Regions from separate parts of the Homo sapiens genome. Here regions 1, 2 and 3 are each linked to region 4. Evidence: fine-mapped expression QTL. A gene starts in region 4. Each other region holds a variant in brackets. All regions are shown on one strand. Distances are from middle to middle. Region 1 overlaps ASPH (aspartate beta-hydroxylase). Region 2 has its middle 24 kb from the start of LINC02842. Region 3 holds the start of LINC02842 (long intergenic non-protein coding RNA 2842). Region 4 holds the start of ASPH (aspartate beta-hydroxylase).

Evidence for each region.
Region 1: its variant is fine-mapped to the expression of ASPH in whole blood (TOPMed, PIP above 0.99).
Region 2: its variant is fine-mapped to the expression of ASPH in whole blood (INTERVAL, PIP above 0.99).
Region 3: its variant is fine-mapped to the expression of ASPH in whole blood (TOPMed, PIP above 0.99).

What each region holds. Positions count from the first base shown.
Region 1 is chr8:61,638,969-61,646,695 of GRCh38, forward strand. ASPH (aspartate beta-hydroxylase) reads right to left here. Exons shown (of 25, transcript NM_004318.4): 7 at 5,632-5,664; 8 at 4,977-5,033; 9 at 4,418-4,465; 10 at 3,920-3,952. Among named protein-coding and RNA genes, the nearest start is that of ASPH, 72 kb to the right of the region's middle. The variant C/T (reference allele first, on the strand shown) is at 2,885.
Region 2 is chr8:61,756,827-61,764,553 of GRCh38, forward strand. No RefSeq gene overlaps it. Among named protein-coding and RNA genes, the nearest start is that of LINC02842, 24 kb to the right of the region's middle. RefSeq lists an enhancer at 2,951-4,150. The variant C/G (reference allele first, on the strand shown) is at 3,545.
Region 3 is chr8:61,783,759-61,791,485 of GRCh38, forward strand. It overlaps LINC02842 (long intergenic non-protein coding RNA 2842), which reads left to right and starts at 1,289. Exons shown (of 5, transcript NR_187554.1): 1 at 1,289-1,398. The variant A/T (reference allele first, on the strand shown) is at 4,371.
Region 4 is chr8:61,710,554-61,718,280 of GRCh38, forward strand. It overlaps ASPH (aspartate beta-hydroxylase), which reads right to left and starts at 4,039. Exons shown (of 25, transcript NM_004318.4): 1 at 3,716-4,039. The coding sequence starts at 3,818. MIR4470 (microRNA 4470) reads left to right here and starts at 4,235; the gene lies at 4,235-4,306. RefSeq lists silencers at 3,409-3,838, 3,879-4,248.

The DNA.
Region 1 (7,727 bases), 72 kb before region 4:
ATCCTTCTTTTTCCCAGCATGGTTGTAAGTTTATTCTTTCTTATTCATTTAATAAAGAAAAATTATTGAGCACCTACTATCTTTCAGACACTCTCAGTATTGGGGTACAGCAGGGAACAATGTTTAATAGGTCGTTTTGTCCTTTTGGGGCATTTGAAAGATGAAGGAGCAGTGAATGTGTGCTCACTCTGTTGCCCTGAGCAGTGTCAGCATTTAAACATGCTCAAGCTTCTAAGAACTTAAAAATGCAATACCACTCTTTCTTAAGCTTGCTTCTCGTCACCCTCTCTTTCTTCCATTGAACAATCTAATTTCTTCAGTCATTTACATCTCATGGCTCATCTCTTCCTCTCCCCTCAACTCACTCCCGCCTGTCTTCAGACCCTGACCCCATCCCTGAAAAGGCTCCTGCTGAGACCCCCTCCAGTGCCTCATTTGATATGATGGACACTCGCCAGCCCTCGCTATATTTTTAGCAACACCATTCTTCTCCAAACACTGTTGCCCCTGGACTTCAGGGTGACCATACTCTCCCCTTTGGTTTTTCGTTTCTCCCACTCAATCTTCTTTTTCACTTCATCTTTTTCTTAGCCGTCCTTAAATGCTGGCTTTCTTCAAAGTCCAGCCATAGAACCACCTCATGTCTCCCTCAATCTGCTCTCCTTAAGGGATCTCAGAGCTTGGTCCTGATGACCACGTAACTACTCTGATGGTTCCCACACTCACAATCACGAAGTAGACTTCTCTTCTGAGAGTCAAACACCACCAAATGGCTCATTTGATCTCTCCTCTCAGATGCCTCAAAGAAATCTCACTATCATCATGTAAAGAACTGGACTCATGAGCCCCTGCCCCGTGCTTGACTCCAGTCTCTCCCACGTTAGGAAAAGAGCACCCCCTGTCACCAGGCTGCAGAAGCAGAAGAGTGTATGTGGCTCTTGGCACCTTGTTGTCTCCCCCCAGCTACACCCATGCATGAAGACCTGCCAATTTTACCTTCTAAGCATTTCTCAACTTTGCCCACTTCCCTCCTCCATCATTGCCACCACCCTTGGTTTAAACTATCATATCTGTCCTATCCGTCCACTGAAACAGTTCCAGCTAAAGTCACCCGTTGAGGCCACTGCAGCGCCAGATCAGGGCAGGTTTTCAGCACTCATCTCACATGGTTCTCAGTAGCGCAGGGCACCACTGAACATCCCTTTCTTGAAACTCATCTCCTTTGGTTCCTTCAGACAGAGAGAGATGTGATGCACGGAAAGACCCAATTTGGATGATTACAGCTAACTTAACTGTTCTCCCTGTATTGACTCTTGTCTCTCCAGTCTGTTTGTTGCATGCCAGACCGATCAATCTTTTCAAAATGCAGATCTGACTTGGCAGTGCTCAAAGGTGAAGATGAACGTCCTTGATCTTGCTCACAGGCATCCTCTGAACCCAGCCCATTTCACCACCTCAGCCTTACTCTTGCAAGTTCACGTCAGAGACCTCATACGACTCTCCAGTCACCTTTCTCCTTGCCTTGTCAATTGTTCTCACCTTCAGCTCAAACTTCAGGAAGGCCCTGCCTCATCCACAAACTAGGTAAGGTCTCTTGATTACATATTCTTGTTACCACTGTACTTGTTCTTCCTAGCACTTATCACAACTGGAAATGAAAACTACAGTGAAATTGCTTGTTTAATTTCTACTACCCTACTAAAATATAAGATCCATGAGAACAGGAACCATGGGTGTTCTTCACTAGAACTGCTCCAGTGTCCTGTGTTTCAGACCGAAGACACTAAACAGTGTATGAATAAATAAGTCAATTACATGGTAAGGCCATACTGTCACTTCCCAGGTTTGTCCAATGTAGGCATGATGATTTCTAGGTTATCTTTGATGTAGAAGCTGGTTCCTACTATAGTTCTATCGAAGTGTATGTTCTGGGGTTTGCAAGTTTCATACAGAATATATTCTATTCTCCCATTGAAATGTGGTTTTGTTTTCACCCTACTTACAGCTTCACTTACATGTCAGTTACTTGGTTTCTCTGCTCTGATTCCTGAATTTTCACAAAGGTATTGTTTTAGCATATAGTGAATAATACACTGTTCAATTAGATCTATTTGTTTGAAACAGTTTATGTTCTATATAACAAAGAAATCCAAAGTAGCTTACCAAATCATGTCAATCTCTTAGGTTATATTTACTGCCTTTTGCTAACATTTTAAATTACATTTATTATGATACTCTGCCCTATGAAAACATATAACATTCTTTTCGCATGGTATCTAATTTTATACTTCTTATGAGTTTGAATTTAAATTCCTCTAGATTTAGTCTTCAAATTGCATTCCAAACATGTTCTTTATATTTTTAAAAACATTATAATGATCAGTAGAAATGAGGAAAATATCTCAAATCCCATCATTACATGCAACTTGTATTTATAAATTCCTATTTTCTCCTTCAAATTCAAGATTGGAAAGAAAATCTAAGTGCAATCTCAAGACCAAATTATTCCCCAACCTTCCCTCGGCCCCAAATCTTCCTGTGAACACATCAGGTCCAAATTCTTTAACTTTTCATAAAAATTATCAGTACCTTAAAGACACAACCTAGGATTTTTCCCATGGTGTCATTCATATCCCATTAGAAATAGCCACTATAGATGATGAACTTGGTAGGGTCTCAAATCTTAAATCATCATATAAATATGATTCATATTTATAAACACTCCTAATTTTCTTCAATTGTGATTCACTATCTATCATGACACTGTAAACTCCTTGAAAGGAGGGACCCTATGTTACTCATAATTGAATTCCAGGCCCTAAAACCATCTAGAACATAGAAAGTCCTCCATATCCACCAACTCAATTACGATGTATTTCTTCAT[C/T]GTTCTTGCTTTACACATAAAGTTATACCCAACTGACTTCTCTCTTTCTACATAATCATCTTTGAGGATAATGGAATAAAAAGGATATATTATTGGTTCTATTACTTCTTAGCCATACATTCTTGGGCAGCTTATTTATAATGTCAGAACCTTATTTCTGTCCTCTGGGAAGCAGGGAAAATAAAATCTACTTCATGGAGTTCAACACAATAGTCTATGCAATGCTTGGACACAAGAGGAGGGAGGTACAGGCCTAAACTGAATCAGATGCTGCTGATGCCACAAATTTGCCAGAACTGTTTTCTCCATACTGCCTTTAAGCCTGGAACACAGTGCTTCTTAACCTTCCCCAAGGTGACAAATCAGTCATCTTTGAGAGTGGGATTAACCTGTAGAAGCAGCTAGAGCAATTTAACTCCGGCTAAAGTAGTTGTTCATGCATATTTTAGTCAAAAGAGACACAACTATAAAGTACTGAGATTGGTTTTCTTGAATGACTGTAACTGCCTCCTAAGGCAACTTGTAAAGAGTTTAAGAAATTATTTAGGCAATGGCAGAAGCCGTGGAATGGGTAAACAGTCTCCCCAAGTGAATTCTTTGAACGCTACCGTTCATCTGGATGTTTTAAGTTGCAAAGTTTATAGTTTAAAGCATAATGTTCCACATCTTGTAGTCAAACTATAGGTATATTTTAAAACAAGAAGGTGGCTTAAGGTTAGAAAGCATTTGCAGGCCGGGCGCAGTGGCTCATGCCTGTAGTCCTAGCACTTTGGGAGGCCAAGGCGGGAGGATCACCTGAGATCGGGAGTTTGAGATAAACCCTAAAATACTAAAAATACAAAATTAGCTAAGCGTGGTGGCACATGCCTGTAATCCCAGCTACTCAGGAGGCTGAGGCAAGAGAATCGCTTGTACCCAGGAGGCGGAGGTTGTAGTGGGCCAAGATTGTGCCACTGCACTGCAGCCTGGGCAACAAGAGCGAAACTCCATCTCAAAAAAAAAAAGAAAAAAAAAAAAAAGAAAGCATTTGCAAACCTTGTTCCTCATAGACTTGGTATGTTACATCATCTGAAAAAAAAAAGAGAATAAAAGCAAAATAAGTATTAACTGAGTCATTCTATACAATTGTTCAGTTAAAACAAAATACTACTTAATCGTAAACACAGAACTCTACTCCTTCAAATATTAATGTCTGCTCAGTCAATAATAAATGCCTCTGCCCAAAAGCAATTAAAAGGCAGGTAAATTATTTTCATTAAAATTTCTCAAATTGGCACAGAGGAATTTGATACACAAAAACAGCATTAAAATTTGACATCCTGTTTTGTTATGGAATGGTTAGTTGATGAGGTGAAATATGAAAGCCTGATATTCTTATAACAGTCTAACTTTGTTATAAAACAAAATCTCATGCATTAGATGTCGAAATTACTTCTTTGATGCCTTTAAAAGAAAAATCACCATGTAAACACAGCATGTGATTGAAAAATCTAAGGTAATATTTTAAATCTAATGAAAATGCTCATCTAATACCTGTATCATGGTGCAATCTTTCATCTTCTACTACTGGTTCACTGGAATCTAAAAAACAAAAACACACCTTTGCCAAACAGGAAAAAACCAAACACATTGCCAGACAGCATTCTAGGAGATTCATAAATTAATTATCTTCACAACTTTGCCAGATAGATGTTTTCATTATCATTTAATAAAATTTAAGCTGAATAACGTTCCACAATTTGATGCCTAAGTCAAAAAGATAGGAAAGAGTAGAAATGGGATTTGTACCCAGAATGACTTTATAGTACATCATACTGCCCCTTCAATTTTCAAATATTCTTTCCAGCACCTTACCTACAAAGACCAAAGTCTCAACAGTGGTTTGAAAAATACGTCTCCTTTTTCTCTCATCCCTCTATGTAGTATTAAACTATATTCAGACATTTCTATAAACATCTGACCAATCAAAAGTGATTATAAATACCATACAGGGATCTCTGTGTTGAATCACAATTGTTAACCCTGGAATAAAACGGCCTTGGCCACTGCCTCAATCAGAAAACACATATCAATAATTTTAACATTTACAAACCTGGATTTTCCTGCTCAGACATCATCTCTTCCATATCCTGATTACAGTCTTGTGAAACTATAAATTATGGAATAATTAGGAAATTACGTCTCAAATAAGGAATACATGTAATATTCGAAACCAGAAAGACACAATTTCTAGTTATGATTGAAATGCAAAATCAAGTCATAATGATATTCAAACATGTTCACTCCTGAAACAAATAGGTATTAAGTGTGTTAAATGCCAAATGCAAAGATGAGTAAGGGGGGCCTGTCATCAACTGGTTTACACTCAAACCGCAAAACAGTAAAGTGCTGACAGATGATGCGCCCACCTCCTGTGGCCATGCCCTTTAAGGGCGCTGGCATGTGACAAAACATGATTTAGACCTTTCGTTGACTCTGTAATTGAAAGGTACAAAACATGCAATTCAATTGTATCTTTTGAACTAGTAATCCTACTGAAAATTTATCCTCAGGAACTAGGCATCAAAACACAAAAAAGTATATTCACAAAGAAATACCATAAATATAAGACGTAATAAAATTATTAATTGCATATCTTGCATATATTAATTTAAATATATCATTAATAATAGATATTATGTATTTTATGATGCCCTTTTAAAGGAAGACTCACTCTAATTAAGAACAGAATTAAATTAAAATCTCACCTGTCTCTTCCACGTGGTAACTATGCTCGGTTTCTGGAAAAAAAAAAATTAGATTGATATTTACTGCTTTTACAAAATGGTATGTATATATCCCGTATATGTACTCTGAATCTATGCTTATCATTAATTTTATTTAAAAAATTAAAAAATGGGACTATCAATTAAAAGTCTGCTTAACACTTTTATATTTCACTAGAAGTACACTGTGGGATGTCTCACACATTCTCCTTCTCAGTCCACTCATCCCCACAAGGCTGACAACCACCACCCCCTGGACTAAAGAGAGAGGACAACTTAGAGTGACACAGGCCAGACCAGGAAAGCCGTTCATTTCTAATCCACTTCACAACCCACTAGAATGTGCTATCTCCTCGACCTGTCCTACCATTTTCTAGAGCGAAAGTACAGCAACTATGGATGGGAACAGAGAAAAACAGCTGAAGAGGCTTTATACCCTTAGGGAGCTGAAGGGTAAATGTGTTGAACACTTAACCCATACACCCCAGATAGCAGAAGAGCTATCTGTCCGTCACCACACTTATGACCTTGCTAATTTTATTTAATGCATATATAAAGAATAAATATTTTTATTTTCTGAAGACTTTTAACAACCAACTTTTAAGTTCAAACTGCATCTATGTCCTAATTAAAGATGAGATCAGAAAGTAAGGTTTCTGCAATTTGTGAACTTCTTAAAAGTGTTTCTTCCTACTCCCAATCTGTGACTCCTAACTTTAAGAATATCAAATTCCTCATGCTTCTGTTTATTTCAGCATCTTAACTGAAATTTGTTGTATAAGCAGCATGTAGATAGAAAAATTCTGAGCAACTGTCAATCTTACTGAGCCATTTAGGCCAAAGACTGGAGAGAAGAAGCAACAGGAAATGTGGAAATCATTTTATCAGTATCCCTACTCAGAAACTGGAAACCTTGTCCCAAAGAAATCATGACATAAATGATTACTAAAGGCATAAAGTTCTGAAGGTAGTCTATAAGTGCTTATTTTCAATGTGTAATGCAGCAAAAATAAATCATATAGATGTTCAAAAGGATTGTGTGCTTGTATTTTTCACAGAAAATTATGCATTATATACAATTCTTTTGAAAACCAAACCATCCCATATTTTTATGGGAAAGTGCATTTCCTGTTCTAAACAATAGGCATGGATATAAGTTTTTGGAAATACATGTACTCATAAAGTAGGAGCTACCTGCTGCTAAAGTAATTTTCCAAAATATTTAGTATTGTGCAAAGTAGATAAACTACTTTTCATTTTTATGCTTTTAAAAAGTGTTTGCTAACTGGACACACAATGGCTCATGCCTGCAATCCCAACACTTTGGAAAGCTGAGGCAGGAGAATTGCTTGAGGCCAGGAGTTTGAGACCAGCTTGGGCAACATAAGGAGACCTTGCCACTATAAAAAATTTAAAAATTGGCAGGGCATGGTAGCATATGCCTGTGGTTCCAGCTACTTGAGAGGCTGAGGTGAGAGGACTGCTTGAGCATGGGAGGTCAAGGCTGGAGTGAGCTGTGTTCAAGCCGCTGCACTTACCAGCCATGTTGGGTAGGATTTTACAAATAAGTTGTATAAAAACACAGCTACACTGACCCACTTAGGAACTATCAAAGGCTGCTTTTACGCTGTGATGGCAGAGTTGAGTAGCTGAACAGAGTCTGTACGATCCAGAAAACCTGAAATATTTACTCTCTGGCTATTTACAAAAAAAAGTTTGCCAATGCCTGGTACAGAAGCTAAGAATTGTGTTTTGCTCACTGTAATTACAGAGTTCATGTGTGAACATGAGCCTGTGATAGATTATCAAGTCCAATATTTCATCAGTTGTTTGAATTTTATTTAACAAATAGCACCCTAAGCAGAAGAATATAGTAAAACTAGTTTCCTCAAGTATTTGACTCACTATTTATAAGAAATTTGTATATTCTGAGTTTCCCTGAAAAGTGCTTTGAACCAAAATCAAGGTATCTATTTTAAGAAAAAATTTGCTTTAATTGAAGCTTTAAGCTTCAACTTTTAAAAATCTAAGCAAAAGTTAAATATCAGTTTTAAAGGGGTTTAAGAAAAACTTCAGTA
Region 2 (7,727 bases), 46 kb after region 4:
AGGAGAGATGCTTGGGAGTCGAGATTGTGTCCCCATTTATTTAAACCAGTATATCACTATAGTTAACAGCACAAACTTTAGAGTCAGAATGACCTGGATTTGAATTCTATATTATAAATAAAGCTGCTACAAGTGCTCTTGTACAAATCTTTTGGTGGATATATGTTTTCATTTCTTTAGGGAAGGATTTCTTGAGTGGAATTGTTGGTCAGTAAGTATTTGCCTAGTTTTATGTAATGCTGCCAAACTTTTCCAAAGTGGTTGCATCACTTTATTTTCTGCCATTGGATCCTGGAAAAGTTAATTCCACCTCTTTGGGCATAAGTTTTCTTCTGAGGGCAATGGGGATAGTAATAGCTACCCCACAGGATGTTGAGAGGATTAAAAACAAGATATTATGATGTTAACGGAGAGCATGACACAGTAATTTCTCAATAACAGCAAGCATTCTTTTTTTCTTTGTTGTCATTCCTGAGTTTTTGAACATTGTATTATGAAAAATTTCAAGCCTATCAAAAAACTGAAAGAACCTGGTTGTGGTGGCTCATGCCTGTAATCCTAGCACTTTGGGAGGCCGAGGTGGGAGGATTGCTTCAGTACAGGAGTTTGAGACCAGCCTGGGCAATATGGTGAAACCCAGTCTCTACAAAAAATACAAAAATTAGCTGGGCATAGTGGCATGTGCCTGTGGTCCCAGCTACTCAGGAGGCTGAGGTGGGACAATGGCTTGAGCCAGGGAGTTGGAGGTTGCAGTGAGCAATGATTGTGACACTTCATTCCAGCCTGGGCAATAGAGAAAGACCATCTCAAAAAAAAAAAAAAAAAAATTGAAAGGATAGTGAGCGCCCATACACCAACTTGTAGACTGTATAATTCACATTTTACCTTTAATTCATCACCTCTCTAGCCACACATTAATCCACTCTTAATGCATTTTATGGTAGACATTAGTATATTTCCTACTAAATACTTAATCATCAATATATGTAATCTAGTTAATGTATCATTTATTAGAATTCAATATTTGTTTACAGTTCTTTTTGTTCTCTTTGAGGTAAAATTCAGAGAATAAAATGCACAAATTTTAAATGTACCATTCTATGAGGTTTGACAAACTCAGAAAGCTATGTAACTCAAAACCCCAAGATACAGAAATTTTCTTCACACCAGAGAGTTCTCCCTTATCCTTTCCTAGTTAACCATTGTCCTTACCCACTCTCAACAAGGCAACCATTTGTTTTCATTTTCTCAGGTATATAGATCAGTTTATTTTGTCCTAGAACCTTCATGTAAGTGAAATCCAGTATGCTCTCTTTTTATAAGGCTCCTTTTACTCAGCATGTTTTCATATTTTGCCCATGTTGTATATGAGAGTAACTGTTCCTTCTTATTGCTGAGTATAATTAGTTTATATAAATATGCTAGAGTTTGTTCACCTATTCTCTTACTTTGTATATATCTGGACTGCTTTCTTTTTTTTCTATTATAAATAAAGCTGCAATGAATATTATTTTGTAATATTATTTATTTTTATTTTTTTCGTAGAGACAGGGTCTCACATAAATCCCAGGCTAGTCTTGAACTCCTGGACTCAAGCAATCCACCTGCCTCAGTCTCCCATCAAATGATGTGTTATCAAGGTTGCTGCTGTAGACAGCAAGGTTCCATTATGGCAGGACTTCTGTAAAACATACAGAGTGCCTCCAGGAATTTTTTGGGTTATATGTTTTCGTTTCTTTTGGGGAAGTCTTATTGAGTGGAATTGCTAGGCCAAAAGTGTTTATTGAGTTTTTGTCTGTTTTGTTTCTGTTTATTTACTTTTAATAATTTTTTTAAGAGACTGGGTTTTGCTCTGTCACTCAGGCTGGAATGCAGTGGCACTATAATGGCTCACTGCAGCCTTGACCTCCTGGGCTCAAGCAATCCTCCTGCCTCAGCCTCCTGAGTAGCTGGGACCACAGGCACACACCACTATCCCTGGCTAAGTTTTTTTTCATAGAGACAGGGTCTCACATAAACCCCAGGCTAGTCTTGAACTCCTGGACTCAAGCAATCCACCTGCCTCAGCCTCCCAAAGCGTTGGGATTACACGCATGAGCCACTGTGCCCGGCCTTTATTGATTTTTATGTAAAACTTCTAAACTGTTTTCCAAAGATTATGACCCCATTTATTTAAACCAATATATCATGATACTTAACAGAACAAACTTTGGAGCCAGAAAGACCTGGATTTGAATCCTATATTATAAATAAAGCTGCTAGAAGCATTCTTGTACAAATCTTTTGGCGGATATATATTTTTATTTCTTTAGGGAAGGATTGCTTGAGTGGAATTGCTGGGCCAAAGGTATTTGCTTAGTTTTACATAAAGCTGCCAAACTTTTCCAAAGTGGTTGCATCATTTTATTATATCCAAAGTGGCTGTACCATCTTATATTTCCATCAACAGTTGCTCTATACTCAGATTAGAATTTGATGTCATTACTCTTTTTCATTTTAGCCACTTTAGTGTGTAGTGATTTCTCCTTGTGGTATTAATTTCCACTTCCCTGATGACTAACGATGTTAAGAATTGTTAACACACTTATTGGTAATTTGTTTGTCTTCCTTTGTGAAGTGTCTATTCAAATATTCTGCCCATTTTGTTTTAAGCTGGACTGTTTGTATAGTTAATATCCTTGCTTGCAGGACACGGGGGAATGAGGCAGCCACATAGTCTGATGGAAAGGTAAAGAGAATGAAAGAGAGGGAGACAGGTATCTTTGACAGCAAGTCCCAAAGTCGCTCAGCTATCACTCTCCTCTTGTCCATGGACTGTATTCATGTGGGCAGTTGCTGGTTTGCTGTTTGTCTGGCTGAACGCAGACATAGCGCCTGCTCATGATGTGAAGATTTGGCTCACACAAACACAGTGGTGAATGTCTTAGTTTTGAGTTCTCCCCAAAGCAAACTGAGACCAGAATTCAGTGCAGGGAGTTCATCTGGGAGGTGATCTCAGGAAGCCAGGGTGAGGTAGCAGAAGCATGAGTCACAAAAGGAGGAAAAATCAAATGATGTGTTATCAAGGTCGCTGCTGTAGACAGCAAGGTTCCATTCTGGCAGGACTTCTACAAAATGTACATAGTGCCCCCAGGAATTGTTCATGACAGGACATTCATCCTCTGGCTGCTGTGGCACAGGCTCCCCTCCCCTTCCAGGTCTTTTGCAGGGTGGGCAGCTACTGTGGCGTCTGAGAAGGCCAGGACCAGAAGCGCATGTGAGCTCTCACCGAGCGTGGGCCAGGCAATGTGACTGGAAGCACCAAAAGGGCTTTCTAGAGTGAGAGTGCTTATTGCTAGAGTGAGAGTGCTTACTGAGGATTTCCCACGGGAGATCGTAGAGGGTGTCCCATGACCCCCTGTATGTGAACAACTTCACAATCACTGCAGCTTTCCCGCAAAGTCACCTCCTGGCTTAGTCACTGCTGCTCTTCCGCAAAGTCACCTCCTGAATTAGTCACTGCTGCTCTCCCGCAAAGTCACTTCCTGGCTTAGTCACTGCTGCT[C/G]TCCTGTAAAGTCACCTCCTGGCTTTGGCAACCAGGGCTCCTTTTTTAGCCTCCACCCCCAGCTCCTCCCTGGAACCCTCTCTCCCGCCTTTTGGATTCTACACCAAAGTCAAATTCTCCCAACTCCTGGGAAGAGCGGCCTCTTTCCTGGCTTCAAGTCTGGCTTCTAGCGGTCACAGGCCTGAGGCTCAGCTCCTACCCCAAAGTAGGTTTATCCACACAGCTGCCTAAAAAAGGTAGTGACAAATAACATTTCTTCTCATTATTGCACAAGTTTTCCACAAGCCCGTCCTGACCATATCTTGGATGGATTCTTCAGTCCACTTGGGCTTTTATTCTTGCTAGTCACCATCCGGCCTATTCTGTGCTCCACTGAAATACATCTGTTATCCTGTTATGGACAGGAGCTCTTGTGTTTTTCCCAAGACAATAATTAGGTCATTCAATGGTGAAATTCCTGCTAAGAGCGGTGGCCCAATGACAGTCCTGGCGAGTCAATCTGCTCGTATCTGCCCGTGCCATCTCTGTGCCAGCCTCCCCACTCCTTCCCTCCACTTCCCCTGTACTTGCACTTCTTCCTGCACTAGGTCAAAATTTTGAATTTTGTTTTTTTTTCAATGTCTCTTTAAGTCTGCCTTGATCCAGGAATTCTCTTGTGCTTTGTTCATATGGCTAGCAGCAAACCTCCCTATATTTAACTGAATATATGTCATTTAAAAAGCATCACTGAGTATAATTATCATGGTGCCTCTCCCTTTTTCTTTCTGCTGACATCTGTTTCAAATCTTCATCACTCCTAACTATAGATTTCTCTTTAAGATATTGCTTCAATGTGGCTTTCCTATTCTCGGAACAAATAGAATGGAACTCACTGCATTCTTTTCCAGCTCTTTTGGGTGATGTAGGACAAGGCTGCAGGAACTCAGCTTTTCCAGAAGTAGAGCATGGAGCCATATTAGCTGGAGGGTTGCTGAATGGTTCCAGGTTCAAACATCAGCATAGCAAAGTCATTATGAGCACAAACTCCTGTGACTTACTCAGCTGTGTGACTCAGGGCAAGCAACATAATATTGCTGTAGCTTGGTTCATTCTTTTTTACAGTGGTAGATACAATAAAGTAATACGCATCTCACAGGGTCGAGTGGGTGCTAAAAGAGTTAGTAGATATCAGGCACTCCAGAGGTTGCTTTATACAGCAGGCACTCAACCTTTGTTTATTACTATCATGTTGCTCCACCAGAGAGTCACAGATTTCATCTCTGGGGTCACTTGATCCCTTTGCTGTCTGCAACTTTTGTAGCTTGGGAGGAGCTTCCTTGACAAGATAAGGAATTTATTTATTCCTCCAGCCAGTGGGATTTCCGACTGTCCGGGGAGGTGGTTTGGAACTAAGACTTAACATGAAGAGAAAATACTGATATATTCCATGGAGACGATCTATTTTCCATTTCAACTTGGAAGACTAACACTTGACTGTCTCACCAGTGGAGGCAGCAAGAGGGTGCATAATACAAAGTTTCTGTAAGCCTTGTAATCTCTGACCACTTGGTACAATGAGAAGGACTGTAATATATTGGATGCTACCAGTTTTTACTTTATGGGGAAAGTTTTTCTTCTATTTTTACAGAATAGTCATGACTTTTACACTTTGCACCTTCAGAAATCTCTAAGTCAGAAAATAAGCATTCTCTGCATCCTGTTCTTTTCTTGACTTTACACTATTACTGAATTTTCATTTCAATAGTTTAATAGTAGCAGCTAACATTGACCCTTTATCATGTGCCAGGGACTAAGTGTTACACAGTTAAGTTCTCATTTAATGTCCTAGATAGTTTCTTGGAAACTTTGGCTATAAGCAACATGACATATAATGAAACCAATTTTCCCACAGGCTAATTGATATAAACAAGAGTTAAGTTTCTATAACATCACGAAGACCTCACCAATCTTCAAAATAAAGACCCCCTAAACACTTCTAATACTAAAGCTAAAATAAATGTGAGCTATACATACATTTAAGAAACGTTAATAAAAACAAGGAAGATAATTACCCAATTATTGCAGTTCAGGGTCACGGGTGGCCAGAGCCTATTCTGACAGCTCAGAGTGCAAAGAGGGACCTAACCCTGGCCAGGAGGCCATCCTATTGCAGGGCCCAGTCATATAACAAAACCACGTTGAACAAATGGCACTGTTCCAAGACCTGCTGCATATTGAATTTCTCATTCAACCCTCCCAATGAGCCTGAAGGAGGCCATATAGCATAGCAATTCACTGTGACATCTCCAGAGTTTACCAGGGGCCAAGTCATGGCTTGCCCACTTACTTGTCTCCTGATGGGAAATTTATTTAGCCTCTATGTTTCTCTGTTTTTGTTTCCTCATCTAGCAAAAGGGCTTGAGTGTATTTTTTCATTGGGCTATTGTAAAGGATTAAATAAAATATTGCAAACAGTGTTTGAAACTGTCAATACATATGTTATGATGAAAACAGTGTCAGAAATAGGTCAACAAATACATGACATAATTAGGCAGATGAAAGAACTGAGACTAAGTATAGGTGATTCAGTGGCTCCAGGCACACAGCTAGTAAACTAAGGAGCTGGGATTTGAAAACGGCTGTACACCGCCAAAGCCCATACTTGTGACCTCTATATCATTGTATGTTATGAAAACCAAAACTAATGAAGTTTTCATTCATGTGCTAAATAATACTGTGATCAGGCAAAAACAACGTAGCTACTTACTCCTGGAAATAAGGCTCCTGAAAGACAAGACAGTGAACCGATTCAAACTCCTTATTCATCAATAGCCTTTAAGGACCCTCTCCTCACTACAGCTACCCATTCAAAAATATTATGACATACATTTCCCAATCCCAACTAGAGTCTTGCTTTGCAGAAAATCATCCAACTCAGAGTTGCCCTCCAAATGCTATTAATATTCTCCCCTGACTTCTCCCTTCTGATTCACTACTAAAGCTGTCAAAGAAGTCTTTTCCCTTACTGCAGCAAGCCTAACCAACTTAGCTTTGTTTGAGCAGCAGATTTTTCTGGTGATATTTTGGGAAGTCAGTACTCAACAATACTTAAACTACCACTGAGATTCACTAAATTCCCCCTTGCTGCTGAGGCTCAAGACTCCTCACTCAGGAGAGGGTGCTACCTTGGGGCCTCTGAGCCTTCCACTCAGAAATCTCTCCAACCGTAAGATAGGTAGGGCCCTGATTATGTCTGATCTCCTGATTTCTTATTTGCTCTTGCTTGAGTTGATTTTCAAATAAATTCATTTTTTCTCCTAGGAATGAGGAATCATTTTAAGTATCCTTCCTTTAGATAATTAAATTTGAAAATTATTATTCATGGTGAAAACCTGCCTAAATACCAACACTTCCTCCCTGTTTCCTGCTGTCCACACTCCTCCCTTTCTCCTGTGAGTCTGCAGGAGGAAGTCTAGAGAGAGGGACCACACGGGCTCTCGAAGTCCGTCTTTCAGACCACTCCAAGACTGACGAGTTCAGTCTCATGAGACTGATAATTTTTTGACAAACTTTGGCTTGGGATACTGTTCAAAAACTTGTAAGAAATTTCCATTGTCTTGTCTTTGCATCCCTGAGAAATATTTTATTTAGTTTCTTCTGCCCACTGTTGGGGGTTTCCTTGGGCCTCTTATCAGTGATGACTGCTCTGTGGCCATATGCTAGAGATAAGAAGTGGTACAAGACCCATTCTTACTGTCTGCTGTAGTTCTCATGGGCTCTACTCAATGTGTTTGGCCCTCTGGGACAAACACCTGCTCCCTTAAAGCTTTCATTTAAGTGCATGTCTCTGTCATGACTCCACCATGGTCAAACTGAAATTGCAATGATCACTTTGAGAAAATTGTAACATAAACATGATTGTCTATTAGAGATACACATTAGAACAAAAAAGAAAAGAAACCTTCAGGAGGTGATTCTGCCTTGTCTAAGAGAGAGATGACCTTGAAATAGGAGACCCCTTCTTTTCTTCTTGTACTGTGCACATGTGTGACTGTTTTTATGTATGTGAATATGTATGTGCATGTGCATGTGTGTGTAAGAGTGTATGTGTGCAAGTATGTATGAGTGTGAGTACATGTGGATGTGTACATGAGAGAGAAATGGTTTTTCTTGTGTCTAGGCTTTTCCTTTCCTTGCAGAAAGA
Region 3 (7,727 bases), 73 kb after region 4:
TGGCAATATTGAGTAAAAGCCTGGGCTGAATAATGCAGCATCAACTCAGTGCTACACGAGGGACACTAGAAATCTGCAGTGATGCTTGTGATGAGCTGGGTCTGCGTTCCTTCTGGGTGGTGGTCCTATTGTGTTAAACCACTGGAGCGGCTCTGTGGGGAGACTAGTGTGTGTGTAGATAGTCCATGATGGTCTGGATCTTTCGGCCTGAGAACCAGGAAGGCTGAGGGCAGGAAAATATTAATGTCCCAGCTGAAGCAGTGAGGTAAAGAGAGAATTCAACTTTCTTCCACCTTTCTGTTCTCATAAGGCCCTCTGTAGATTTGACAATGCCCACCTACACTGGGGAGGGCCATCTGTGCTACTCAGCTCACCAATCTAAATGCTTATCTTGTCCAGAAGCACCCTCATAGACACAAGAACTAATGTTTTGGCAGCCATCTGAGTGTCCTTTAACCCAGTCAAGTGGACACATAAGATTAACCATCTCTGTGGATAATCCACATTTTTCCTCTCTTGTAGACTAGATGAAAGGGCCTTCTGTCATCACTAGAAATGGCACCATAGTCTGACCCAATGCAGGGGAAGGGGCAGGCTCTGACTAAACTGCTAGTGGGAAACCATCCAGTCCGCTGGACTCTCAACACTGCAGCACTTCTGCTACTTTAGATGTTTCATTATGAAGTTTGTGGCATTTAATACCCCTCCAAGTACTTCCATGCACATCATTGGAGATGGCGTAGTGAGGAAGTGATTTTCACTTTGTTTTACAGATCCCAGGGTGAGGGAGGGGTTTTCACTTTGTTCTACAGATCCCAGGGTTCTGTGGGGGATTTCTTAGCATCCACACACGACTTAAACCACACCAGCTGGGTTTGTCAATCTATTTATTATGAAGCTGGGTACTCTTTAGATAAAAGGCTTTAACTGCTGAAAAAAAAGTTTAGAAAATATGAATAAAATGCCTTAAAAGCCTGTATTTTACTCCTGGCTTTACACTGTCTAGCCCTGTGGCCTTGGATGTTTAACTCATCTAAACTGTAAATTATCTAACTATAAAAGAAGAGTAGTAACATCTCACAGGGCTCTTAAGAGAACAAAAGTTCATAAACATAAAACTTTTATTGGAATGCCTGACACTTAGTGCTCAAAACACAGTGGTGGTTGTTAATACTATTGTAATGTTATCAGATCTAGAAGTTTAGGAAGAGTCTGGAGTGGTCTTCAGCATTATGAGGTCATAGTTATCCTTGTGTCCAGCTTTAGCATAGAGCAGAGTCTGCTCCTTAATGCATCCCTGGATCATAGCAGACTCTGCCTATAGAGGCCTGGGGTCCCTTTGGCAGCACTTTTCTCAAGAAAGTAGAGTCGTGGACAACCAACTGCACAGGTTGGGAGGTAAGAACTTTTTTTTTTTGTATTGAGAGTAAGCTCTGGGGTAACATAATGGTGTAGTTTGCTTTAGATACTTATCTTTTTAATAAACTAAGCTGGGTGAGCAAGTGTTTTGGAAAAATATCTTAGGATCCTGAGAGAGCTAAAAAAGCCATGGAGAAATCATTACAGGATGCATTTTAGTTTTGTGAATTATATTTAACACAAACTGATTAGTTCATAAAATGATTTACAGATGCAATAATAGCTACCATATTTTATCACTTTACTTGCATTTTTAAATTCCCATTCCCATAACACATTGCAAGGTAACATTGTAAATATGAAAACACTGCCCTATAATCAGAAGCAGAAGGTGAATGAGGACCCAAGTCTTTCTGACTCTAAAACTCATGCAATTTTTGCTTTACCCCACCTATAGTATCCCAGAAAATGTCAACATCCTGGAGGATGGGAGCCCCTTTTTGGGGATAGATGCTCCAGGTGTATCTGCTTAGGTGGGACTTACACTTCACTTTCCCTGGTGCCTTGCCCCAGTGCCTCCTCTTCACAGCAGATTTGATCAAATATGGGCATCAGACAGGTAGAGATCACAGCATCTTCCTCTGTGCCAATCTTGGGACTATGAAAGAGAGAGAAACTCACCTTTCTCATTTTCTCCCACCCATTCCTCCCCTACCTAGTCCTTAATTATAGCACAATCAGACATACTTTTACAGAGAACACCAAAATTTAGAGCCAAGGAAATATGTTTATACTGGCACCATCCCTGTGGCTTATCCCTGCAGGTGTCCTCATAAGGATTGTTATTTATTTAATATTATAATGTCAAAATTTAAACTACAAGGAGATGTGCACTCTCCTAGAAGCACTTAGATTTGGTGAATATTGAGCCACACCCTTTCCTTTGTTGTTGGCACAGAGGCACGATATCTCTGTAGGAAGATAATTGCCAATGAGTGAGTCATTTTTTTTCTAGGAAAACTTACAGCCTCCATCACTCTTCAGGAGAGTGGCAGTCAAGGAGTAAGACTCAAGGAAAGGTCAGTGCTTGGTTGAGAGCCTAAATCTTTACCTTGGGTTGCAAGTGAACATTTGGGAAGAGCCCATGGCCTGGAGAGAGAGCTAGTGGCCAGGAAGAGCAAACAAATGGATTGCCACTGCCACCTGCCACATTGGGCTGCCACTGGCAGAGCTGCTGAGTCTGCAGGTGCAGTGATTATGCTGTGAAAGATTCAAATAGGACAACCCTATGTAGCAGTGGCCAGGGGGCAGGTGAGTGGTGTAACTCTGGAAGGGGTTCTTGTTATTTTCAGCTGGGATTCCAACAAGATAATGACTGTTGGTACTAAAAAGAGCTTGAAACAATTATCTTTCCAGAGTTTTCCTAGAAAACTAATGAGCACACAATGTCACCATAGAAAACTCTAGACCCAGGTCAAAAGGCATTTGGCTTGTAACTATCACTACAGAACCAAGTAAACAGTCAAGAATAATAAATGCCTGGAATAATAAATAGCAGCATAATCAATTGGTAAAAAGCTTCCTGAAAAATCACTGTTGAGCATTTGCAGATATAAAGGTTAAGAATTTAGTACAAATAATAGTAAAGTCCCCAAGGGAACATAGAAAGAGGGGATAGCTTTGTGTTCAAGATCATGTTTCACAATTATTTTTCCACTAGGTGAGTTATCATTATCCACAGCTCATTTTTCTTCTTTCTTCCTTCAAAATATCCCAAGTTAACATATTCATATGAGCCCCCTTCTTGAAGAGCCAGGGTCCTGGGCATTGTGTGTCCCAGGGATCTGGTCAGGTTCAATGGGAAGTTTCAAAGTTTCGATGGGTGTGTATGAAGAGGGCCAGTCCTCCATGGCCTGCACTTTCTGGAGCCCAGGAGGGTGACATAAATGGGAGGTCCATAGGGAGAAATTTCAGATGAAAATCAGGTAGATCATGGAACAGTTGGCTTGAGACAGCCAGACAGAGTGGGAGGATCCAGGTTCAAGGAAAAGGTACAGAATTTTAGGAAAATGGATGAGAGCAAGTGGATTGTGAGCAGTGGCTGGTTGGGAGAGCCTGATGAATGTTCTGAACCTAACACAGTAGCCGCATCCTACTCACAAGGACACTGGGCTTCAGGCATTTGTGGTGGGAGGAGAGGTACTGGCAACCTGGACACGATAGAGTGTTTCAGTGCTCCATTGCTGGGTGTCTGCCCTCTGACAAGGCAACAGTGGTTTACTCTTTCTCATAATTCTGTGGGTTTGCACTCTAAGTGGTTCTTCTGCATATCATGAATGGCTTGACTGGAGCTGGTGGCCAGGCTGGCCTCACTTACATGCCTGACAGTTGGTACCGGCTGTTGACTATGGCACTTTGTTCTCCCCATGAGGCCTCCCATCCTCCACTAGGCTAGAGTCAGCTTCTCCACAATGTACTGGTAGCAGGCTTCCAGGAGAGCAAGAGCAGAATCTGCCAAATCTTTGAAGGACTAGGCTTTGTGATTTATAGGATGCCTTATTTTATGTTCTGTTGGCCAAATAAATTTGGAGTCAGGGCAGATTCAAGGCAGCAGAGCAATAGACTACCTTTTGATGGGAAGAAGAGCAACCACACATTGTGAAAGAGTGTGGACATGGGGAGGTCTGATTCATTGGGGATCCTCATTGTAACACTTTAACACAGGGAATATTTTTCTTAACATGGCTTATCTCTTTTGGGGTATGCATTATGTTACATAGATTATCCTGGTCCTTTATGCTTATTTTTGATGTCACATAGGCCTTTCAAAATTTATTCAGTAAGCATTTATTAGGCACCTGTTATTTTCTTGGCAGTGTGCTAGATTCTGGGGATATTATGGTGACCAAGATTATAGGTAATCTTAAAGGAATTTTCTTTTTATTTCCTATAAAATCAGGTAAACAGTGAGTCTATGGGTGGGGTAGGAAGGGGGAGAAATACAACAGGAT[A/T]TAACAGGATAGAAGGGTGGCAGTAGAAAGCTAGCAACATGGTAAAGTTGGTTGGAAGAAGCAGGATTATATTCTCTGATGTTTTCAAAAGCTACCAATAAGGGATGATTTCATTGTTCTAGACATAAAATTAATTTTTCTTTTTTTTTCAGGAATAATCTGAGTTTAAAGAAAGGAGGAGTCAGTGCTGGGATTTCTTGGTTCTAGTGGAAAGTAGTTTTTTAAAATTTAATTGACAAAAGTTATATATATTCAGGTACACGATGTGATGATTTGATATACATGTACCTGTATAATGATAGCCACAACCATTAATTAATGTAACCATCACCACCTATAGTTACCCTTTTCTATGCGTGTGTGTGTGTGTATACGTGCATGCAGTGAGGACACTTAAAATCTACTCTTACAAATTTCAAGTAAACAAGGCAGTATTATTTACTGTAGTTCCCAGATTGTACATTAGATTTCCAGAACTTATTCATCTTTTTTTTTTTTTTTTTTTTTTTTTGAGACAGAGTCTCACTCTGTCATCTAGGCTGGAGTGCAGTGGTGCAAGCTCGGCTCACTGCAACCTCCATCTCTGGGGTTCAAGCAATTCTCCTGCACAGGCACGTGCCACCACGCCCGGCTAATTTTTTTGTATTTTTAGTAGAGACTGGGTTTCACCATGTTAGCCAGGATGGTCTCCATCTTCTGACCTCGTGATCTGCCCGCCTTGGCCTCCCAAAGTGCTGGGATTACAGGCGTGAGCCACCGCGCCCAGCCAGAACTTATTCATCTTATAACAAACTTTGTACCCTTTGACCAACATCTCTCCATTTCCCCTATCCCTGAGCCCCTGACAACCACCATTCTACTCTCTGCTTCTCTGAGTTCAACTTTTTTAGATTCCACACATAAGTGATATCATATAGTATTTCCACATATAAATGAGACCATATAGCATTTTTTTCTGTGACTTTTTTATCCCAATTACCATAAATGTCCCCAAGTTTCATCCACGTTGTTGCAAATGACAGGATTTTCTTCCTTTTTATGGTCCAGTAATATTCTACAGTTTCTTCATCCATTTATAAATTCATGAACATTTAGTTTGATTCCATACCTTGGCTCTTGTAAATAGTGCAGCATTATTTACAATAGCCAAGGTATGGAATCAAACCAGATATTAATTCAACATACTAATTTCGTTTTCTGTGGATACATACCCAGAAGTGGGATTGCTGGATCATATGATCTGTGTAGGTTTGTGTTGCTGTCTATGCATTTCAAGTACCAAATACCTCTTTCAGTCTGTATAGATGGTTCTGTAGATAAAGGCCCTCTTCTATTAGGTCCCCAGGCTGACTCTGAGATTTCCTCTGGGATCACAGTTGAGCAGGGTTAGAGCTAGGTCATGTGGCTTCTACTGAGTGCATAGTGAGGTATAAGGTAGGTGAGCCTATTACCCGGGCTCAAGCAAACATGGATCCTGTCTGGGCTCTGGGTGGACTGGGCTGCCCCCAGAAGCATGGCCAGTAGGGCTGGTGCTGAATGAGGGTCTACTTCTGAGTCTGTAGATGGCAGTCCTATAACCTGGTATGTGGATAGGTGTGGCTTCCTCCAGGTTTCTGGATTGGTTTGCTCTGGGTCACTGGGTGGGTCCCTGGGCAGGCAGTGCTGGCCCTCAGCCATGGCTGAGAGGGGCTCGACCTGAGTCACAGGGCTGCTACAGGGTCCACAAATGAGACCGAGGTCTGCAGGGCACAGACCCTTGGGGGACACAGATGAGTGTGTCTCTCTCTGGGGTCCTGGAAAAGCAGGCTGCTTTCAGACTGCAGCTGAGAGGAACTAGAGCTGAGGCTCAGGGCTATTTCCAGGATCTGCTGATAGTGGAAAGTAGTTTTAATGCCCTGGGCTATCTCCTAGAGAAAGGAAATGTCCAGTGATGACTCAGAACTACAGTAAGCCAATTGTGGGTTATCCACGACATTTCCCAAACTCAGAGTCAAGGCCAAACCTGTTCATCCAAATAATTGTGCCCTAAAGCCTGCACTCCTGGAGCGATCCCATATGGACATGGAGCCATGGCCTGTTTCCTGGGTATGGCGGTGAGAGGAGAACCTCCTGCACTGGCAAATCTGATTGGTGCAAATGTGCCATCTGTCACTTGTCTGGCCCACAACTACCCCTTCAAGCATGCCGGTGTGGGATGAAACATAGAAAACAGAGCCCGGGTCTGCTCAGTCCTTTGTTACACTGATATGGCTGCCAGGTTGCCTCACACTCAACTATGAACCACCAGGGCTTAAAACAAGCAGAATCTCATAGTTTCTCAAATCTTATGCCTTGTGTTGTGTAAAAAAGTCAGAAAATACACTGTCAGCTGGCACAATGAAAATCTAATGGATTTACTAATTTTTAAATAAGATTAAAACCCATTGATAATTTAAATAATCTATTTTCATAACACTTCATTGCAAAAAAACTCAATGTTTTCTGGACTTTCTTTGTGAATTTTTTTTTTTTTTATTTTGAGATGGAGTTTCACTCTTGTCGCCCAGGCTGGAGTACAATGGCCTAATCTCGGCTCCCTGCAACTTCCACCTCCTGAGTTCAAGTGATTCTCCTGCCTCAGCCTCCTGAGTAGCTGGGATTACAGGCGCCGGCCATCACTCCTGGCTAATTTTTATATTTTTAGTAGAGACAGGGTTTTACCACGTTGGCCAGGCTGGTCTCCAACTCTTGACCTCAGGTGATCCACCCACCTCAGCCTCCCAAAATGCTGGGATTACCTGCGTGAGCCACGACACCCGGCTTTCTTTGTGAATTCTTTCAATATTTTTCTGAGGCAGATGGAGAACAAATACCTCTATTGCAGGTGCTCAGAAAATCTACTGTGGGGAATTATATTAAGAAGAACCCAGCACATGTCTTGCTCCACACAAGCACTCAGGTTCCCTGCACTAATGTTAGAATGGTCCTAGGTGGGCGTTTGCTTTCTGTGAAGCCCCAGCTGCCTTTCTCACAGTCTTTCAGAACATCTGCCAGTGCTACCCAAACAAATCCTGGTGTAGTTAGGCAGTCCTAATGTAAATGCTTAATAGAGGCATGGCATTCTTGTTTGATTACTTTACTGCTGCAAAGAAATAGGGCCCAATTTAACATTAAGCCTGTCATTGGTGAACAGTGCTCTTTTGCTAGTGTAAACAAAACCCCTTGCATTTTGACAATAACATATTCAGAATTTAAATTAAACTAAGCTAGAAAATTATAACTGTAGGGTAGCAACTAAGTCATTCTCACACAGAATGTTTGTAAAATGTAAGTTGATGGCTGGACATGGTGGCTCACACCTGTAATCCTGGTGCTTTA
Region 4 (7,727 bases):
TGTTCATAAACTCCCTCAGAACATTATTTAGTGCTTGGTTTCATATGATTTGGTCAGGATGGACAAAATGCTGTTGAACTGAACACAAAATAGCTGACGGTTCTTGCAGTGGAAGAATTATGGTCCTCCTATGTTTTCATCTTAGAATGAGTAATGGAGGATTAAGCAATTGGCTCTGATGGTCTTTGGCTAAAGAAAGAAAATTTTGCTAGGGCCTCTTCATTCAAGGGCTCCACAATGCAATCAGCAGTGTATTGAATCCCTCAGTTACTTAGTAATCTAAGAGACACTCAAAGTAGAAAGAAAAAGGAAGCTAAACTAAACTCAGAAGTGTGTTTCTAAATGACAAATACTCATCAAATGAAGCTGTTAATGTTTTACAGGCAGTACAGGAATATATTTCATTCTAATTAAGCCTAAACAAAAAGGCTGCTCAATCTACTGAGACACCTTGAGAGAGTTAAAAAGTAGCTAAGAGTTTTTAAGTGCTTATCTATCAATAGTTTTGAGTATATACAGACGGATTAAATAATAATTAAAACCTGCTGTTACATAACCCCAAGCTTCAAACTAAAAGGGGGATATATTCTACAGTGACACCTAGTGGCAAAAGTTAATGTAGTAGCAGGACACCCAGACAAAATAAACAGGGAGATGGAAAGCTGCTAGGAGATACAGGGAGTTAAGGGGTGATACTCAAAAGGGAAAAACTAAACAAACAAACAGAAAACATTACACATACGAGTGTCTACAAAATAAGCCCAAAAGGACATCATGATCCTTCTTTGTCAAACTATTTTCAAATCAATAAATTTGAAAAAGGCTTCCCCTGGGCCCAACTGGCCATGCAAGTCCAGTTCTATATGCAAAATAAAGGTAGGAAGTCTAATTTATTCATGTTTCTTTTATATTATAAAGAGTAAAACTGAAAAAAAAGTAAAATTGAACTCTGTAGAAAACCATTTTATCATTTTTCAGCTTAAGCTGAAGAAAATAAAAAGCAGACACTTGCTTTAAAAATCTGTGATATAAATTCCCCAAATTCCAGCTTCCAAACATCACTTTTCAGCAAAAAAACCACCAAGATAAAGTTTGGCCAGGAAAAAAAAAAGAAATCACCTTTTCCCTAAAATGCATGTTTCAAATGACTGGGTTCTTTTTTCCCCATACGTTTACACAACAACTTAAGAAATAATAATGTTTAATGTGACCAATGCCGTCATTTTCTGACTCTCAATGTAAGACATATCAAAAAACGTACTATTTGAACACATATACTTCTTCTCAAACTAAAATTTCAAATAGTGTTTCAAATAGAATTTTTGTCAAGGGAAATGTAATTGGTGATAGGACAAAAGCATAGTTTTCTCCAATAATTAAATGTAGTACTCATGGAGACAGCCAGAAGAAAACTTGATAATCTAGTTCAACTCCAATTACATACTAGAGAACCTAAAATTCAAGCATGGCAAAATGAATAACAAAACCTGGGTTCTTAGTCTCGGTTCTTCCAGTAATTAGTTGAGTTTCCATGAACTAAACAACCTTCAATGAACTCGGCAACTTCTCTGGGCATTAATTTCCTCATCTGTATGATTTGAGCAGGAAACTAAATGGGTCTCACAGTATGACACTGCTAAAAAGTCTTTGATTTTCCCAGTAGAAGGAAATGGTTCGCACAACGTCCGTACTTTAATGACCAGGTAAACAGCATTAAAAGAAAAGCCGGCTTTATCTTTCGAGTACAGCCTACTATACACGACACTGTACTTTAACTGTTTAGGGTGATGGAAGGAAATGGTTTCCATACCCAGTGCCTTCTATCTGGCACACAGTAAGAACTCAGTATCTACTGGAGAAAAAAAAGAAAAGGTTGCGGATATGCGGATAAAGAATACTCATTACGTCACATGCAGGGTTCCAATATCAACTTTTGTTTTCGTATCACGGGCATTCCTCCCTTTTACATATTCTTTTACATACTATGTCTGTTTCATGACTATTAGAGAATCAACGTGTAAAATGCTTAAAAGGCTGTAGATCCTCAAATATGGGCAGAGTTTGTTCTAAAATGCCTGACTATGAAAGTCAGGAGAAGTTAATTTAAGTTACTGCATTTTCTAAACCTATCTCTTGCCTGTTAAAATGCTTCAAATAGTTATGGGGTAGGTCTAGAAACGTGAGACACATTTCCCAGTATTAGTTCTCACCAATAAGAGGCCATATAAAGTGACTTCCCTCAGATGCAATCAGCCCTCTCCTCATAAACACAAAAATGAAATGGAACGAAGACATGCTTCTCTGGCAAATAGCTACAGAAACCTTTTGAAAACAACTAACATTAAAGTTGTTCATCAGCTTTCTCTGCTTAGTGCCCTTAGAGGCACAATGAGAAGAACCCATTCTCATTTAGGGATGTTAAAAAAGAGTAGCCTCAGTCGGCTGAGGCAATTAATCTATCCCTCTGCAGGTTTAAGTAAGTGACATTTAAGAACAAGTGAAAAAGGAACACAAACTTTCACTTATGTCAAAGGTGAATTAATATGCTTGCATTGAACTTCAAACTGTGTCTACATCTTTACTTTTAGAATACAAATATTAGTCCTTAGAATGTAAATTTGTGCAATGGATTTAATGCACTACTTTCCCCATTTAAATCCATTCATTCATTCACTACTCAAATATTTATTGAGCACCTATTATGGGAAAGGAACATTCTAGGAGCTGGGGATACAGAGAGAATGAGCCAAAGACAACACACATGAAAGTAATAAGACAAGTTCAGATAGTGACAAGTGCTATAAAGAAAATACTTCTTTGACTATAGCTGATTCATTTTCTTGGTATATTATGAATGCATGATCTGAAGATCTCAGAAAACAAAGAGTCTAAATCACTTCAAGTGAAGTTTACAGCTCACATTCCATACACATGTGTATTGCAGTTTCAATATCCCAAATATGAGTCAAAGGAAGTATAAAAGAAACCAAGAATCACTGAAATATGAGACGAAACAGATTTAAAAATCTGTTCTCTCTGCTGGATATGCACACGGACGAGGAGAAAGGTGAATATCCAATCGATTTTTATTTTAAGTAAAAGTGGTAAAAATACAGACGCTCGTTCAGTATTTCATGACATTCTATTTTAAAGGCAACTGCAACGCATATTAAGAAAGCTACATACAAGCAAAAATATTTAAAATAATTTCTGAGAGCATTCAAATCACTCCCAACTTCTTCCCTCCCCCTGCCCCCCGGCGCCCCCATTTTCACCTCCTTTGAGTTGCTCTGAAACGCTGCTGGTTAGGCAGGAACTCACTTTCCCTGACTTTGGCTCATTTTCAACTCCCCAAAACACGCAAGGCAAACGATAAATTGTTCTCTTACTCCCATGTTCAATTCCACGGAAAGCCAAGAAACAGTCGTTCAGCAACCTCTGTCTCGGCTGCGCCCTGCAGGTGAAGGAACCGCTGGGAAGGGGCTCCCCGAGACTAGCATCCCGAGGGCTCGGACCCCGGTCCGCCTGGCCCCTCGCCCGCCCGCCAGGCCCGCCGAATGCGGCCTCCGCCCCGCGCGCCTAAAGGAGGAGCGTCGCGGGGGATGGAGGCGGCGCGCGGTGGGACCTGGGGAGATGCACCCGCAGCGTCCGCCGCGCCAGCCGGCTCCCTACCCCGAGGCGAGGCCCCAGATCCCCGCCCCGCAGGGCCTCTGACCTCTCCGGGCCCCGGGGCTGCTGCTGCCCGCACTCGTGCTACCGCTGCCGGAGCCGCTGCTGCTGCTGTTGCCGCTGCTCTTGGCATTCTTACGCTGGGCCATTGCACGGTCCGCGGGGGCTGGTGAGGGCTGGCGGACCTCCTTCAGTGCGCGGGGGTACACACGCGACGCGGGAACCGCTGGCGGCGGCGGGCCGCTGGAGCGGGTTCGGGCCGCTGCTCCTGCAGCAGACCCTGTGCCTCAGCACCGCCTGCAGCACCTGGGAAGACTTCACCCGCCTGCCGGCTGCGCGCGCCCGGCCTCGCGTGTACGAACCTGTGACTCCCTCCCGGGGCGAGAGCGCGCGGCTCGCCGCCCGACGGCCACGCCCCTTCCCGGCCTCGCCCCGCCCCCGGAAGGCTGAGTGACGGCGCCTGGGACCCAATCGCAAGGGCCCTTACGAGGCGGCGGTACCCTGCCGCGCTCCCCGCCCCTGCTCACTTAGGGCTGTTCGGGCGCTACGCAGCTGCCTGTGAGCGCGAGCCTCTTTCGGCTTTCCAGTTTGTCTCGGTCCTTTGGAACGTGGCAAACGTGGAAGCCGAGAGGGCTCTCGCGAGCGTTGGCAGACCCCGCTCCATAGGGATGGGACAGGGCGCGGTGCGGAATAGGTGGACACGTGGGCCGCCCGTGGGCGGAGTGCGCCGCTTCTAGGCCTTTCACTGTGGATTTTGTCCCCTTTCCGTATACAAGGAAAGGAAGGAGTGCAGTCTCGCTTCTTGCGAAAGAGATCCCTATTTCTTGTCCTGATTAATACTAAGACATTTCTGGAATGGTGATATTAGGACTAGTTCAATGCTTAAACCGTAGTAGTTCATCCATTTGGTGCTGAAGCAGGAATTTAGTTCGTTTGTGCCATCAGTATTTTCAGATACTCTTAGTTAAGGAATGAAAATGCAAATGTGACACAAAAAGTTCATTTTCTTACCCTGGATGGCACCCTCTGTCTGAAATCCCTGGCTGCTTTGCTAACGCCTGGGCCTGTGCTGCCTGAGAATTCCCAACAGAGTATTAAAATGTCTTGGCACGTGGTTGAACCAGACAAGGACTTGAGATCAGCGACGTCTTTATCATCTTTGTGTCACCATTGCTAACACCATGCCCAATGTGTAACAGGCAAGCAAGAAATGCTTAGTGATTTGATACATTTCTGTCAATTGCTGAACCCACAGCTCTTGATCATGTTTCGTAGCAACCCCTGGGAGTGTCTCAGGAGGGCTCAGGGACCAGAGAGAGCAGTTGCATTGTGGCATCTGGTTTCATTCCTCTTTTCCAGCCCCACAAACCCACCCACCCGCGCCTTCAGAAGCACTCCCGCCTCCCCCCGGCCCCATGCCTTTTCACCTGTGGATGGTTGGATGCTGCTTGACCCTGCCCTGATGATGCACAGAAACCCCCCAAAGGTCATGTTGCAGAATAAAGAGAATGCCTTTCTTTACCTTTTGTCAAATAGTGTTAGGCTATTATCAAGAGACGGTGGGAGGGGAGAGTTCACAGAGTTTTTATTGAAGTAGCTCTCTCAGCTTTTATCTTGTGGCATCTCCTTCTGCATCCATATATCCTTTCTCCCATTCAGGGCCCCCTTACAACCCTCTATTATATTATCTCAATGAAGGAGGTGGAGAACTGGATTAAGAAATAAATCTGAGTGATGGTGCTTCATATAAAATAAAAATGAGAGCTAAATTTCAAAACACAATGCTCTAGCCACCCCCCACCCCCCACACCAAAGATATTTTTACCCTTAAATTCTCACAAAACCCTGTAGTCATATCAATTTTTTAAAGAAATTAGATACTGGAAGCTCAGAGAGATAAAACAAAGTAGGGTCACTGTATTAGTCCGTTTTCACACTGCAGATAAAGACATATCCCAGACTGGAAAGAAAAAGGGGTTTAATTGGAGTTACAGTTCCACATGGCTGGGGAGGCCTCAGAATCATGGCAGGAGGTGAAAGGCACTTCTTACATGGAGGTGGCAAGAGAAAATGAGGAAGAAGTAAAAGCAGAAACCCCCAATAAACCCATTAGGTTTCATGAGAATTAATTCACTATCACGAGAATAGCACAGGAAAGACCGGCCCCCATGATTCAATTACCTCCCTCTGGGTTCTTCCCAAAACACATGGGAATTCTGAGAGATACAATTTGATGTTGAGATTTGAATGGGATCACAGCCAAACTATATCATTCTGCCCCAGTCCCTCCAAATTTCATGCCCTCACATTTCAGAACCAATCATGTTTTCCCAACAGTCCCCCAAAGCCTTAACTCATTTCAGCATTAACCCAAAAGTCCACAGTCCAAAGTCTCATCTGAGACAAGGCAAGTCCCTTCTACCTAAGAGCCTGTAAAATCAAAAGTAAGCTAGTTACTTCTTAGATACAATGAGGGTACAGGTATTGGGTAAATACAGCCATTTCAAATGGGAGAAATTGGCCAAAACAGCGGGGTTACAGGGCCCATGCAAGTCTGAATTCGAGTGGGGCAGTCAAATTTTAAAGCTCCAGAATTATCTCCTTTGACTCCAGGTCTCATATCCAGGTCACTCTGATGCAAGAGGTGGGTTCCCATGGTTTTGGGCAGCTGCATCCCTGTGGCTTTGCAGGGTACAGCCTCCCTCCCAGCTGCTTTCACGGGCTGATATTGAGTGTCTGCGGCTTTTCCAGGTGCACAGTGCAAGCTGTCAGTGGATCTACCATTCTGGGGTCTAGAGGATGGTAGCAGTCTTCTCACAGCTCCACTAGGCAGTGACCCAGTATGGACTCTGTGTGGGGGCTCTGACCCCACATTTCCCTTCTGCACTGCCCTAGCAGAGGTTCTCCATGAGGGCCCTGTCCCTGCAGCAAACTTTTGCCTGGGCATCCAGGCGTTTCCATACATCTTCTGAAATCTAGGCGGAGGTTCCCAAACCTCAATTCTTGACTTCTGTGCACCTATAGGCTCAACACCACGTGGAAGTTGCCAAGGCTTGGAGCTTCCACCTTCTGAAGCCACAGTCTGAGCTGTACGTTGGAGCCTTTCAGCCACAGCTGGAGTGGCTGGGACAGTCACAAAGCTAGTAAGTGATAGAGGAGGGATGTGAACTTGGTTGGACTGGCTCCAGAGTCTATACTCCAAATTATTCCTCCTGGATAAGACATAGTTTTGAGTGGAGAAAGTCTCACCTGGCTCCCTTTTCGGTTAATGGATGTCTCCAGGAAGCCTCCTTGGTCCTACCTTCAAAGATAGGTCTGAAACCCAGTGGTAAGTGCTTATCAAAGCCTATCTTTTTAAGGAAATCAAATTTGTTTTATAGCTAACTCCAAAATGCCATTAAGTGATGCTTTGCTCCTGCATTTCCAGAAACTAAATCTGGTACCCCTGACAAGGTACATTGCTGTGTATCTTGGGCAATATCAGGCCAAAATAGAGGTTTTAGTAAATATGAATCACAGAAAGAAAGAGGCTACCTAGCGCTTTCTTGTATCCTGAGGAAACAACTATGATAACATTTATGTGCTCAGTATTATCGAATAAAACTTAAATCAGATGCCATCAGTTCTAGACACAGTTTCATTTCAGGGACTGAATTCCCTCAAGCTAAGTAACAGAACTATACATTTTATATCTGTCTGTACTTCCCATATTATGGGCATCAAAAAACGCAAAGCTTACTTAGGATTCATATATTTCTTTACAAAGGACATTTTCTCAGCATGGTTGTGAAAAAGACAAAGTATCTTAGTATCTTTTAAATTAAAGGAGAAGTCAAATGTCCCTTGTTAGCTTTTCCTCTTTTCTGTAATTTTCAAGCAAACTATGGGTGAAATAATGTTAAAAGGACCATAAAGACAAGACTTATCTAGGACAATTTATTAAAATACTAATTTAATAGAGCTTTTGAACTAGGTCAAATGTGTCTTTCAGGTATTTCCATAAACCTTCCACTGCCTTCAGTGGGATTTGCAAGTGAGAACTGGAGGACACGATTTGC